Homo sapiens: one gene and its partners. The protein of the gene in region 2 purifies or fractionates together with the protein of the main gene of each other region. This does not show direct contact. Each region holds a gene or a part of one and is shown on either strand. Other genes may lie near its edges.

What was found.
Region 1: the proteins of OR52N5 (region 2) and ART1 purify together in Homo sapiens (affinity purification with mass spectrometry; one large-scale study listed by BioGRID and IntAct). This does not show direct contact.
Region 3: the proteins of OR52N5 (region 2) and ABHD8 purify together in Homo sapiens (affinity purification with mass spectrometry; one large-scale study listed by BioGRID and IntAct). This does not show direct contact.

Annotation. Positions count from the first base shown.
Region 1 is NC_000011.10:3,651,532-3,655,183, reverse strand, and holds part of ART1 (GPI-linked NAD(P)(+)--arginine ADP-ribosyltransferase 1 precursor), read right to left. Parts: intron 1-3,652. UniProt on the Homo sapiens protein: Has ADP-ribosyltransferase activity toward GLP1R.
Region 2 is NC_000011.10:5,780,426-5,784,855, reverse strand, and holds the start of OR52N5 (olfactory receptor 52N5), read left to right. Parts: upstream 1-1,500; 5' UTR 1,501-1,561; intron 1,562-3,099; 5' UTR 3,100-3,323; intron 3,324-4,430. UniProt on the Homo sapiens protein: Odorant receptor.
Region 3 is NC_000019.10:17,296,794-17,300,445, reverse strand, and holds part of ABHD8 (protein ABHD8), read left to right. Parts: intron 1-2,068; exon of another isoform or gene 2,069-2,134; intron 2,135-3,652. UniProt on the Homo sapiens protein: Negatively regulates NLRP3-driven inflammation. Promotes NLRP3 degradation through the chaperone-mediated autophagy (CMA) pathway, hence attenuating inflammasome activation and IL1B secretion.

The DNA of each region.
Region 1 (3,652 bases), 2.1 Mb from region 2:
CCAGAATGAACACGTGAGGAACAGACCTGAGCCCAGCCCAGAGCAAGGAAGACCCCAGCTGAGCCAGACCGGCGGCCTGAGCAGAGCTGCCCAACCAAGTCCAGTTTAGATAAGCCACTTGCCGTCAACCCAAAGACCATGAGCCTGGGAGTAAATGTTTGTTTGCCACTGAGATTTTGTGGCACACGGCAAAATAGTTATGCAGCAAAAGCCCACTGGGCCAGCTGTATCTCTCATTGTGTCTCCACAGCTCTGTTTCTGTCTGCATCTGCTCTACAATAAACAAGATACATCAGAGGCTTGAGGGGAGGAGAGGCTTGAAGGCAGACTGAGGACATGGAATTAGTGGACCTGAGTAAGAGAATGGCAGTGAGGACAGACAGAGGTAGGAGGTGGAATTTACAAGACTTGATGTCTGATGGGAGAATGGCAGTGAGGATAGACAGAGGTAGGAGGTGGAATTTACAAGACTTGATGTCTGATGGGAGAATGGCAGTGAGGATAGACAGAGGTAGGAGGTGGAATTTACAAGACTTGATGTCTGATGGGAGAATGGCAGTGAGGATAGACAGAGGTAGGAGGTGGAATTTACAAGACTTGATGTCTGATGGGAGAATGGCAGTGAGGACAGACAGAGGTAGGAGGTGGAATTTACAAGACTTGATGTCTGATGGGAGAATGGCAGTGAGGACAGACAGAGGTAGGAGGTGGAATTTACAAGACTTGATGTCTGATGGGAGAATGGCAGTGAGGATAGACAGAGGTAGGAGGTGGAATTTACAAGACTTGATGTCTGATGGGAGAATGGCAGTGAGGACAGACAGAGGTAGGAGGTGGAATTTACAAGACTTGATGTCTGATGGGAGAATGGCAGTGAGGATAGACAGAGGTAGGAGGTGGAATTTACAAGACTTGATGTCTGATGGGAGAATGGCAGTGAGGATAGACAGAGGTAGGAGGTGGAATTTACAAGACTTGATGTCTGATGGGAGAATGGCAGTGAGGATAGACAGAGGTAGGAGGTGGAATTTACAAGACTTGATGTCTGATGGGAGAATGGCAGTGAGGATAGACAGAGGTAGGAGTTGGAATTTACAAAACTTGATGTCTGATGGGAGAATGGCAGTGAGTACAGACAGAGGTAGGAGGTGGAATTTACAAGACTTGATGTCTGATGGGAGAATGGCAGTGAGGACAGACAGAGGTAGGAGGTGGAATTTACAAGACTTGATGTCTGATGGGAGAATGGCAGTGAGGATAGACAGAGGTAGGAGGTGGAATTTACAAGACTTGATGTCTGATGGGAGAATGGCAGTGAGGATAGACAGAGGTAGGAGGTGGAATTTACAAGACTTGATGTCTGATGGGAGAATGGCAGTGAGGATAGACAGAGGTAGGAGGTGGAATTTACAAGACTTGATGTCTGATGGGCTATAGGGGACGTGAGAGAGGGAAAAATCAAGGATGACACCCAGGTTTCCATTCTTTAAACTAGAAACACAGAGGAGAAGCGGAGTAGATTTAAAAAAAATACGAAGCTCCTCTTTTCATGCGCGTCCGTGTGAAGAGACCACCAAACAGGCTTTGTGTGAGCAATAAAGCTTTTAATCACCTGAGTGCAGGTGGACTGAGTCCGAAAAGAGAGTCAGCGAAGGGAGATAAGGGTGGGTCCGTTTTATAGGATTTGGGTAGATAAAGGAAAATTACAGTCAAAGGGGGGTTGTTCTCTGGCAGTCAGAGTGGGGGTCACAAGGTGCGCAGTAGAGGAGCTTTTGAGCCAGGATGAGCCAGGAGAAGGAATTTCACAAGACAATGTCATCAGTTAAGGCAGGAACCGGCCATTTTCACTTCTTTTGTGGTGGAATGTCATCAGTTAAGGCAGGAACCGGCCATCTGGATGTGTATGTGCAGGTCACAGGGGACATGATGGCTTAGCTTCGGCTCAGAGGCCTGACATTCCTGTCTTCTTATATTAATAAGAAAAATAAAATGAAATAGTGGTAAAGTGTTGGGACGGTGAAAATTTTTGGGGGTGGTGTGGAGAGATAATGGGCGATGTTTCTCAGGGCTGCTTTGATTAGGGGCAGCGTGGGAACCTCGAGTGGGAGAGATTAAGCTGAACGAAGATTTTGTGGTAAGGGGTGATATTGTGGGGTTGTTAGAAGAAACATTTGTCGTGTAGAATTATTGGTGATGGCCTGGATATGGCTTTGTATGAATTGAAAAACTAAATGGAATAAGAGAAGGAGAAAAACAGGTATAAAAGGTCTAAGAATTGGGAGGACCTAGGACATCTGATTAGAGAGTGCCTAAGGAGATTCAACATAGTCCTGCCAGCAAAGATTATTTATTTACTTCAAGAGTTTAGAGTGGCAGTTTGGGGATAGCACCAGGAGATATCAGCTGTGATGGCTTGGAGAAACAGTGTAAACCGGCAGTGTAAACAAGAGCAGGACATGTATGAGTAGTTGAGAATGGTGAATAGGAGTATGACTAGACAGAAGATAGTAGGGATGACAAGTTCTTTTGGGGCACAGTCTAAGTTGGTCTGGTGTCTGGAATTAGACTGGGGCCTAATAAAAAGGAGCGTCTATACAGGAGCTCAAATGGGCTGTATCTTGTAGCATTCTGAGGACACGTCTGACTTCTGAGAAGGGAAAGTGGTAGAAGTATTATCCAGTCCTTTTTAAGTTGGTGGCTGAGCTTGATGAGGTGTGTTTTTAAAAGACCTTTAGTCCGTTCTACTTTTCCTGAAGACAGAGGACCGTAAGGGATATAAAGGTTTCACTGAATACTAAGAGCCTGAAAAACTGCTTGGCTGATTTGACTAGTAAAGGCTGGTCTGTTTTCAGACTGTATAGAGGTGGGAAGGCTAAACTGAGGAATTATGTCTGACAGAAGGGAAGAAATGACTGCGGTGGCCTTCTCAGACCTTGTAGGAAAGGCCTGTACCTATCCAGTGAAAGTGTCTACCTAGACTAAGAGGTATTTTAGTTATCTGACTCAGGGCATGTTGAGTAAAGCTAATTTGCCCGTCCTGGGTGGGGGCAAATCCTCGAGCTTGATGTGTAGGGAAGGGAGGGGGCCTGAATGATCCCTGAGGAGTAGCAGAATAGCAGATGGAACACTGAGAAGTTATTTCCTTGAGGATAGATTTCCACGATGGAAAGGAAATGAGAGGTTCTAAGAGGCGGGCTGGTGGCTTGTTCTATAGCATAGCCTGCCTTTGCTGGTGTGTGGCGATTAAGCCTGGTGGAGCTGCCATCAATAAATCAAGCGTGATCAGGGTGAGGAACAGGAAAGAAGGAAATATGGGGAAATGGGGTGAATGTCAGGTGGATCAGAGACATACAGTCATGGGGGTCAGGTGTGGTATCAGGAATAATGTGGGAGGCCGGATTGAAGTCCGGGCCAGGAACAATGGTAATTGTGGGACTTAACATAGAGTGAGTACAGCTGAAGGAGCTGGGGGATCAGAAAGTATATGCATCAGGTATGAGGAAGAAAATAGATTTTAGAAGTTATGAGAAATGTGAAGAGTGAGCTAAGCATAGTTTGTGATTTTTAGGGCCTCTAAAACTATTAAAGCAGCGGCAGCCGCTGCACGCAGACATGAGGGCTAGGCTAAAACGTAAGGGCAAGTTGTTTGGAC
Region 2 (4,430 bases):
AGGTTACTGATAACTTGTTTGTTCATATTTAAAAAGTGGAGGCTGAGAAACTACAATGCTTATCAAAATTACTGAATTTTTTTTTTTTTTTTCTGGAGACGGAGCCTTGCTTGTCGCCCAGGCTAGAGTGCAATGGTGCAGTCTTGGCTCACTGCAACCTCTGCCTCCCAGGTTCAAGCAATTCTCCTGCCTCAGCCTTCCGAGTAGCTGGGATTACAGGTGCCTGCCACCACGCCCTGCTAATTTTGTATTTTTAGTAGATCTGAGGTTTCACCATGTTGGCCAGGCTGGTCCTGAATTCCTGACCTCAAGCCATCTGCCCGCCTCCGCCTCCCAAAGTGCTGGGGTTACAGGTGTGAGCCACCACAGCTGGCCCTGAAATTACTGAATGTTAAGTAGAAAATCTTCACGCTCAGAAAGGTAGTTTATCGGGAAGTTAAATCGTAATTTCAGCACACCAAGAAATCCAACGTAACAATGACCCTCAATTCTGACTATGGGTAAGGTTGGTCCCACTTACATCTACTTATGGCCTGTTCTATTTTACTTTCCATTATCTGGCACCTATAGCTGGGGGAGACCAGTTACTCATAGAGAACCTTACTGAATAAGGTGGCATATATACTTGGATTGTGTTCAAGAGCATACAGTAGAGTTTTGGTGCAATCTTTCTGGGGGGATAAAAGTCTAGCAACATAAAAGCTTTAAAATTAGCATATTTTTTACTCAATATCTATTCAGGTCTATAAATTTTCCAATGGAATTAATCATGATTGTGTTGATGTTCACCATCAAGTTGTAACATATTGGAAATTAACTCAATGTTTTAAATTTTAAAAATACGTAAAGGAAAGTTTATAGCCATAAAGTAGCTTTGCTGACTTTGACATATTGCAGAGGAGTGAAAGAGTGAAATATTCATGACATAATGGAAAAAACCGTGATAAAATATCCTCTAAACTATGAATATTCTGAAAACTGTGATTTTCAAAAAAAATTTACACATACCTGGAAATAAAAACACACAAAATCCTAATAGCAAGTGTTTCTGAGTATCTGAAGTATGTACTATTCAGAAGTGCCTTTATTGTTACTTTTTTCTTTTTCGACTAATAAGCATTTACTATTTTAGAATTAACAATAATAAATAACAACACACTTATGATATCACACTCATATACATCTTTTATTTATTTTTAATTGCCTTAGACACGAATTGCCAACTTCTAGTCCTAATGGTGGGATAGCTGTGGCATGGGATTTGCTTTCCTGACTGCTCTTTTTTGGAGCCCAGCTATAGTCACAGAAGTTTTTTCCCTCACATATAGGAATCTTTCCCTTAGGGCTCTGTGGTCTCTGGGGTCTCCGAAGCCCAGTTTCACACTGAGACTCTCGAGCATATGAGATTATGCCTGTTTCCTGTGGGAACTCGGCTGGACTAAGCACTTCTGATCCAAACTCTATAAGCTGAAGCCAGGGTCCTGCCATCACATGCATTCCTGGGCCCTCTCCCTGGCATGAACACCTTTCACATCACTTCTCCTCAGGAGCTATATTGTGGGTAAGAGATTTCTGCCTTCCAGACATTATTGTGTGACAAAGCCTTGTCTTGTTCTAGCCAGTTTGTGTCATCATAAGGATCAAAGACACTGACTTGCAGAAAATGTTGTTGGTGATTTCTTAGTCTGAGAAAATTAGGAAGAGTATGTTCATTCCACATTCAAAGCAGAGATAGTACTTGTAAGGGATATGTGTTCTTGGTGGACAAGGTACAGGTTAGATGCCCTCAAAATCTCCTTTAGAATTTAAGGAACTCCTCTCGTTATATTTATTCTTCTTCTTTTTTTTAATATGTGCTGTAATGCCAGGGTCAGAGAAGTGGACAGTAAGAACTTTACTGTCTCTTAAATCAGGAAAAAACAAATAGCTACAAACTTTTCCCTTCAAGTCACTAGCCCATCCTTTCCCAGTCCCTCCCTTTTCTTAAGTTGGGTCATACAACTTGGAGTCAGTCAATACAACTCCAATTTGTTGAGTATTCTTTTTTTAAGCTGGGTACTGTCCTTTTTCATGGGATAAAATAGGTGGCAGATTTGGCCCATAGACTAAAAGAGCTCACAGGTCAGTAAGGAGACAGGATAAATATAAATTGTTTGAGCACTGGTGCCCAAGTTATCATCATCATAAAAATGGAGAAAATGTGAAGGTAGCAAGGAGGAAGAAAGGTGAATTTCAAATAATAATTCTGGTTTGGTTTAAGAGAGATGGGGTTGTGCCTCACCAGTATTTAGTGTAGACAGCACAAAATTCTGTATCTTTGGCAAGCTATTGAACAAAGAGTCTTGATTAGATAGTGATTAGATACTATTTAATTAGCAGATGCATTATAAGAGTGTGATTAAATTCACCAGTTAATTCAAATATTAAGCAAATATATTAAACAGGTAAATATAGACAATCAAATAGTACTACTATTACTTTTTTTTGTCTAGTCGTGTGGATAAATATTGGAGTTGATATGCAAATCTGCTATTTATGTGCAAGGTAAACCTAAAAACACCAGAGTAGAGATGGAGAAAGTCCTTCTGCTAAGTGCCAAAGGATACATTGCCTGGCACAGATACAGTCGATAATATATATATATTTTTTAATTTTACAAATGAAATATGTTCAGTTTAATTTGGAGTCCATACACTTGAGACATTCAGATTCAATTACAGCATTTTGTGTCATTAAAAGGTTGATTTGACATTTCTGGGAAAACATTTTAGAGCAACAACAGAAAAGATAAAATAGCATAAGAGAATCTAGAAGTCTCTTTTCTGGATCCAGCTTTATCCTGACATTCCTCTCCAGAGAATCAAGGATAGGTCGTTCAGATGCCTGATAGGATTTTATTCTGTGTACTGGTTCCTGAATTCCTTGAAAAAATACTGTTCCAAGCCATCACTAGAGAAGTATAGCGTGGAAGTTAAAAGGAAGTGAAAAAGTAAGTCTCCTTGGCTTTCCTAACTTCTAAGCAGTTCCTGATTCATCCACATTTTCTGGAGGTTAGGATAAAGTGGTAATTCAAAGGAGCCTGTTTTCTGTTGTAAACAGCCAGAGGCAACCATGGATGCTACATGTATTTTGTGTCAAATGGCTGCCCAGCGTGGGATGAGGAGGCCGCACAGGATGCAACAGTGATAGGATCAATCACTCCACCCTTCACCAGATACTGGAGGCGTGGACATCTACATCAGGTAATGGAACTCATTGTCATCAAGGATGGACAAGCAATTGTGATTGACACAAGGTCGTAAGCTGCAGCATATCTTGATGTGGTATGTTTTGTTATTATTATACCTCAAATGCGTGCCTACATTCTGTTGCCTTTTTTAATTCCCCAGAACCACAAGCAAGAATAAAGAAGTCGGGTAGGCTCAGGGTGAGTCCGCATAGTATTTGTAACCAAATTACCTTCTCCTTTGAAAGAAAAAAATATAAATCATCCCACACAACTTTCTTACTATTTACCTTCACAATGACTGCAATGCTGGACAAGGAAGAAATTTTAAGAAGCAGGAGCATTAGAGGTCACATGCTAGAAACATGAAGCCTCATCTTGCTACAGGGAAAACAAAGAAATAGGAAAACAAATACAAAATCAAACAAATGAGAAAATAAATCACTGAACTACTACATGTTAGTCCACAACTTCTGCATTAATTCTGTTTATAAGGGATTTGCTTTAATGGAGCATATGTGAAAGTCTGATCTAAGGAAACCTATGTTTCATTCTGAGTTAATCACTAATAGCCTTGATTAAGCAAGTTAAACATCCTGTATCTAAATCAGGGTGTTTAACGGCAATAGCTCATTCTGGACTCTGGAAACCACAGTCTTCTTCAAAGAAAGTAACATCCTATCTCAGTGTTACTAAGATAAGCATCAGGCATTTAAGTCTTTAATCTATTTTAAGTTGATTTTTGTATGTGGTATGAGATAAGGGTCTAATTTTTTTCTTCTGAGTGTGGATATTCAGTTTTCCCAACACCATTTATTGAAGACACTGTCTTTCCTGATTGTGTGTTCTTGGCACCTTTGCTGAAAATTTTTTGGCTGTAGATATATGGGCTTTTTTCTGGGCTTTCTTTTCTGTTTCATCTTTCAGTCTTGGTATGTTACTGAGTCAAATAATCCATTTTTTCTACATTATTCAATTTATTGGTGTATAATTGTTCATAGTAGTCTCTTATGAACCTTTGTATGTCTGTTGTATCAGTTGTAATGTCTCCTTTTTCATTTTCATTTTATTTATTTGAGTTTTCTCTTTTTTCCCCCCTCAGTTAATCTAGCTAAATGTTTGTTAATTTTCATTTTGTGTTTTCAGGAAAGTTACTCTTATTTTTGTCAATCTTTTCTATTATTTTTCTAGTCTCTAATTTACT
Region 3 (3,652 bases), on a different chromosome or scaffold from region 2:
ATCTTGAGGCAAGGAGTTTGAGACCAGCCTGGGCAACATAGGGAGAACCCCCTAGCTCTACAAAAAGTACAAACATTAGCTAGGTGAGGAGGTGCACGCATATAGTTCCACCTACTTAAGGGCTGAGGCAGGAGATTGCTTGAGTCTGGGAGGTCGAGGCTGCAGTGAACTGTGATCACACCACTGCACTCCAGCCTGGGCAGCATGGCAAGAACCTGTCGCTCTTTAAAAAAGAAAAAAAAATCCGGGCGCGGTGGCTCACGCCTGTAATCCCAGCACTTTGGGAGGCTGAGGCGGGCGGATCACGAGGTCAGAAGATTGAGACCATCCTGGCTAACACGGTGAAACCCTGTCTCTACTAAAAATACAAAAAATTAGCTGGGTGTGGTGGTGGGCACCTATAGTCCCAGCTACTCGGGAGGCTGAGGCAGGAGAATGGCATGAGCACGGGAGACGGAGCTTGCAGTGAGCCAAGATCATATTGTGCCACTGCACTCCAGCCTGGGCGACAGAAGGAGACTCCGTCATGAAAAAAAAAAAAGGGGCCACCACGCGCGGTGGTGCACATTTGTAATCCCAGCACTTTGTGGATGGATCATTGGAGATGAGTTTGGACAACATGGCAAAACCTTATCTCCTAAAACAAAACAAAGCAAACAAAAATCCTAATTTTTCTCCTTGAAAAAAATCCCATTTTTCAATTTAATTTTTACATTTTTAAAATTTTTTTTTCTTTTAAATAGAGATGGCATCTCACTATGTTGCCCAAGATGTTCTTTAACTACTGGGCTCAAGTGATCCTTGCACCTCAGCCTCCCAAAGTGCTAGGACTACAGGTGTGAGTCATTGTGCTCAGCCTTAATTTTTTTTTTTTTTTTTTTTTTTGAGATGGAGTCTCACTCTGTCCCCCAGGCTGGAGTGCAGTGGCGTGATCCTGGCTCACTGCAAGCTCCACCTCCCAGGTTCATGCCATTCTCCTGCCTCAGCCTCCCTAGTAGCTGGGACTACAGGCACCCGCTACCATGCCTGGCTAATTTTTTGTCTTTTTAGTACAGACGGGGTTTCACCGTGTTAGCCAGGATGGTCTCGATCTCCTGACCTCGTGATTCGCCCTCCTCGGCCTCCCAAAGCGCTGGGATTACAGGCGTGAGCCAACGCACCAGGCCAATTTTCAAGTTCAAAAAAAAATTATATAGAGAATGGGGGGGGGGTCTCATTATGTTGCCCAGGCTGGTCTTGAACTCCTGGGCTCAAGCCATCCTCCCTCCTTGGCCTCCCGATGTGGTGGGGTAACAGGCATGAGCCGCTATACCAGGCTGAAAACTCCCATTAGCATATGTAATCAGACAGGGATTTCCGTCATCACTGATATTGTTTCACATTGTTCTAAAGCAGTGTTGCTCAGGCCAGGTGCAGTGGCTTACGCCTGTAATCCTAGCACTTTAGGAAGCCAAAGCAGGCAGATCACTTGAGGTCAGGAGTTCAACACCAGTTTGGCCAACATGGTGAAACCCCATCTCTACTAAAAGTACAAAAAATTAACCAGGCATGATGGTGTGTGCCTGTAATCCCAGCTACTCGGGGGTGTGAGGCAGGAGAATCACTTGAACCTGGGAGGCAGAGGTTGCAGTGAGCCAAGATCACACCACTGCACTCCAGCCTGAGCAACAGAGTGAGACTCTGCCCAAAAAAAAAAAAAAAAAAAAAAAAGCAGTGTTGTTCAATCCCAGCACTATCGTGTTTGGCCAGGTTATTTTTTTTCTGTGAGGGGCTATAGGATGTTTAGTAGCATCCCTGGCTTCTGCCCACTGGATGCAACTACACAATCTAGTGTTGATCATGACAGTCAAAAATGTCTTCAGTAGTTGCCAAGCGTGCCCTGGTGGGCAGAATTACCCCCAGCTGAGAACCACTGCCTTAGACTAAGTTAAAAAATCAACTGCCCTGGAGAACACTGTGCATTCAGGAAGCGCTCATCGGAATCCTGTAAATTCTAGGCATTTACAAAGGCATGGGTTACTGTAATTCACTCCTGCTTAAAGGGCAGGTAATACAACCTAAAACTTACCAAGAACCCCTCCATGGAAGGCTTGGTCCCCAGGGCTTGACCACTACCAAGTGGCCTCATTCTCTCCTTTATCCAGGAAGAAAGGCAAGATTGAACAGCCAGGCAAGTTGAGCACCACTGTTTTAGAGATTCTAGCCTATGCAATTAGACAAGAAAAAAAGGCCAGGCGTGGTGGCTCACACCTGTAATCCCAGCAATTTGGGAGGCCGAGGCGGGCGGATCAGGAGGTCAGGAGATCAAGACCATCCTGGCTAACACGGTGAAACCCCGTCTCTACTAAAAAATACAAAAAAAAATTAGCCAGGCATGGTGGCAGGCGCCTGTAGTCCCAGCTACTCAGGAGGCTGAGGCAGGAGAATGGCGTGCACCCAGGAGGTGGAGCTTGCAGTGAGCCGAGATTGTGCCACTGCACTCCAGCCTGGGTGACAGAGTGAGACTCCATCTCAAAAAAAAAAAAAAAGAAAAAAGAAAAATAAATAAGTGGCCAGGTGTGGTGGCTTACACCTATAATCCCAACACTTTGGGAAGCTGAGGTGGGAGGACTGCTATAGCTGAGGAGTTCAAGACCAACCTGGGCAACATAAGCAAGATCTCATCTCTACAAAAAACTAAAAAGTAAAAAAAAAAAAAAAAGAAAAGAAAACAAAGAAGTTACATAAGTATCTAAAAGAAAGGAATCTAGACTGAGAGGTAACAGCTCTTATTTGTTTATATTTCTTTATATAACATACTCAAAAGTTGATGCTTATGAGAAATGATTCCTCTAATTAAATGAGCACCCACCTGCTGGGCACAGTGGTTCACACCTGTAATCCCAGAACTTTTGGAGGCCGAGGCAGGCGGATCACAAGGTCAGGAGTTCAAGACCAGCCTGGCCAAAATGGTGAAACCCCGTCTCTAATAAAAATACAAAAAGTAGCTGGGTATGGTTGCAGGTGCCTATAATCCCAGCTACTTGGGAGGCTGAGGCAGGATAATCATTCGAACCCATGAGGTGGGGGTTGCAGTGAGCCGAGATCGCACCATTGCACTCCAGCCTGAGTGACAGAGCAAGACTCTGTCTCGAGAAAAAAACAAAAAAACAAAAAAAACACCCACCTACAATAGTTCCCATGACCCCATAACAGTGCTATTAGGTCAGCACATTTACAACTTCAGGAATGTGGAGGCTGAAGCTCAGAGAGGTGAAGCAACCTGCCCAAAGGCATACAGGAAGTCCCTGACACAATCAGGTCTGCCTGACTCCTGTCTGTATCCTTTCCTCATTACAGCAGGGGCTGGCAAACATTTCCTTAAAGGATCGGATAGCGAATATTTTAGGTTTGCAGGCCATACAGTCACTGTTGGAACTTCTGATAAAACTTTATTTAGGAAACATTTTTTGGCCAGGCACGGTGGCTCACGCCTCTAATCCCAGCACTTTGGGAGGCCAAGGTGGGCAGATCACCTGAGGTCGGGAGTTCAAGACCAGCCTGACTAACACGGTGAAACCCCGTCTCTACTAAAAATACAAAAATTAGCCGGGCATAATGGCAGATGCCTGTAATCCCAGCTACTCGGGAGGCTGAGACAGGAGAATCACTT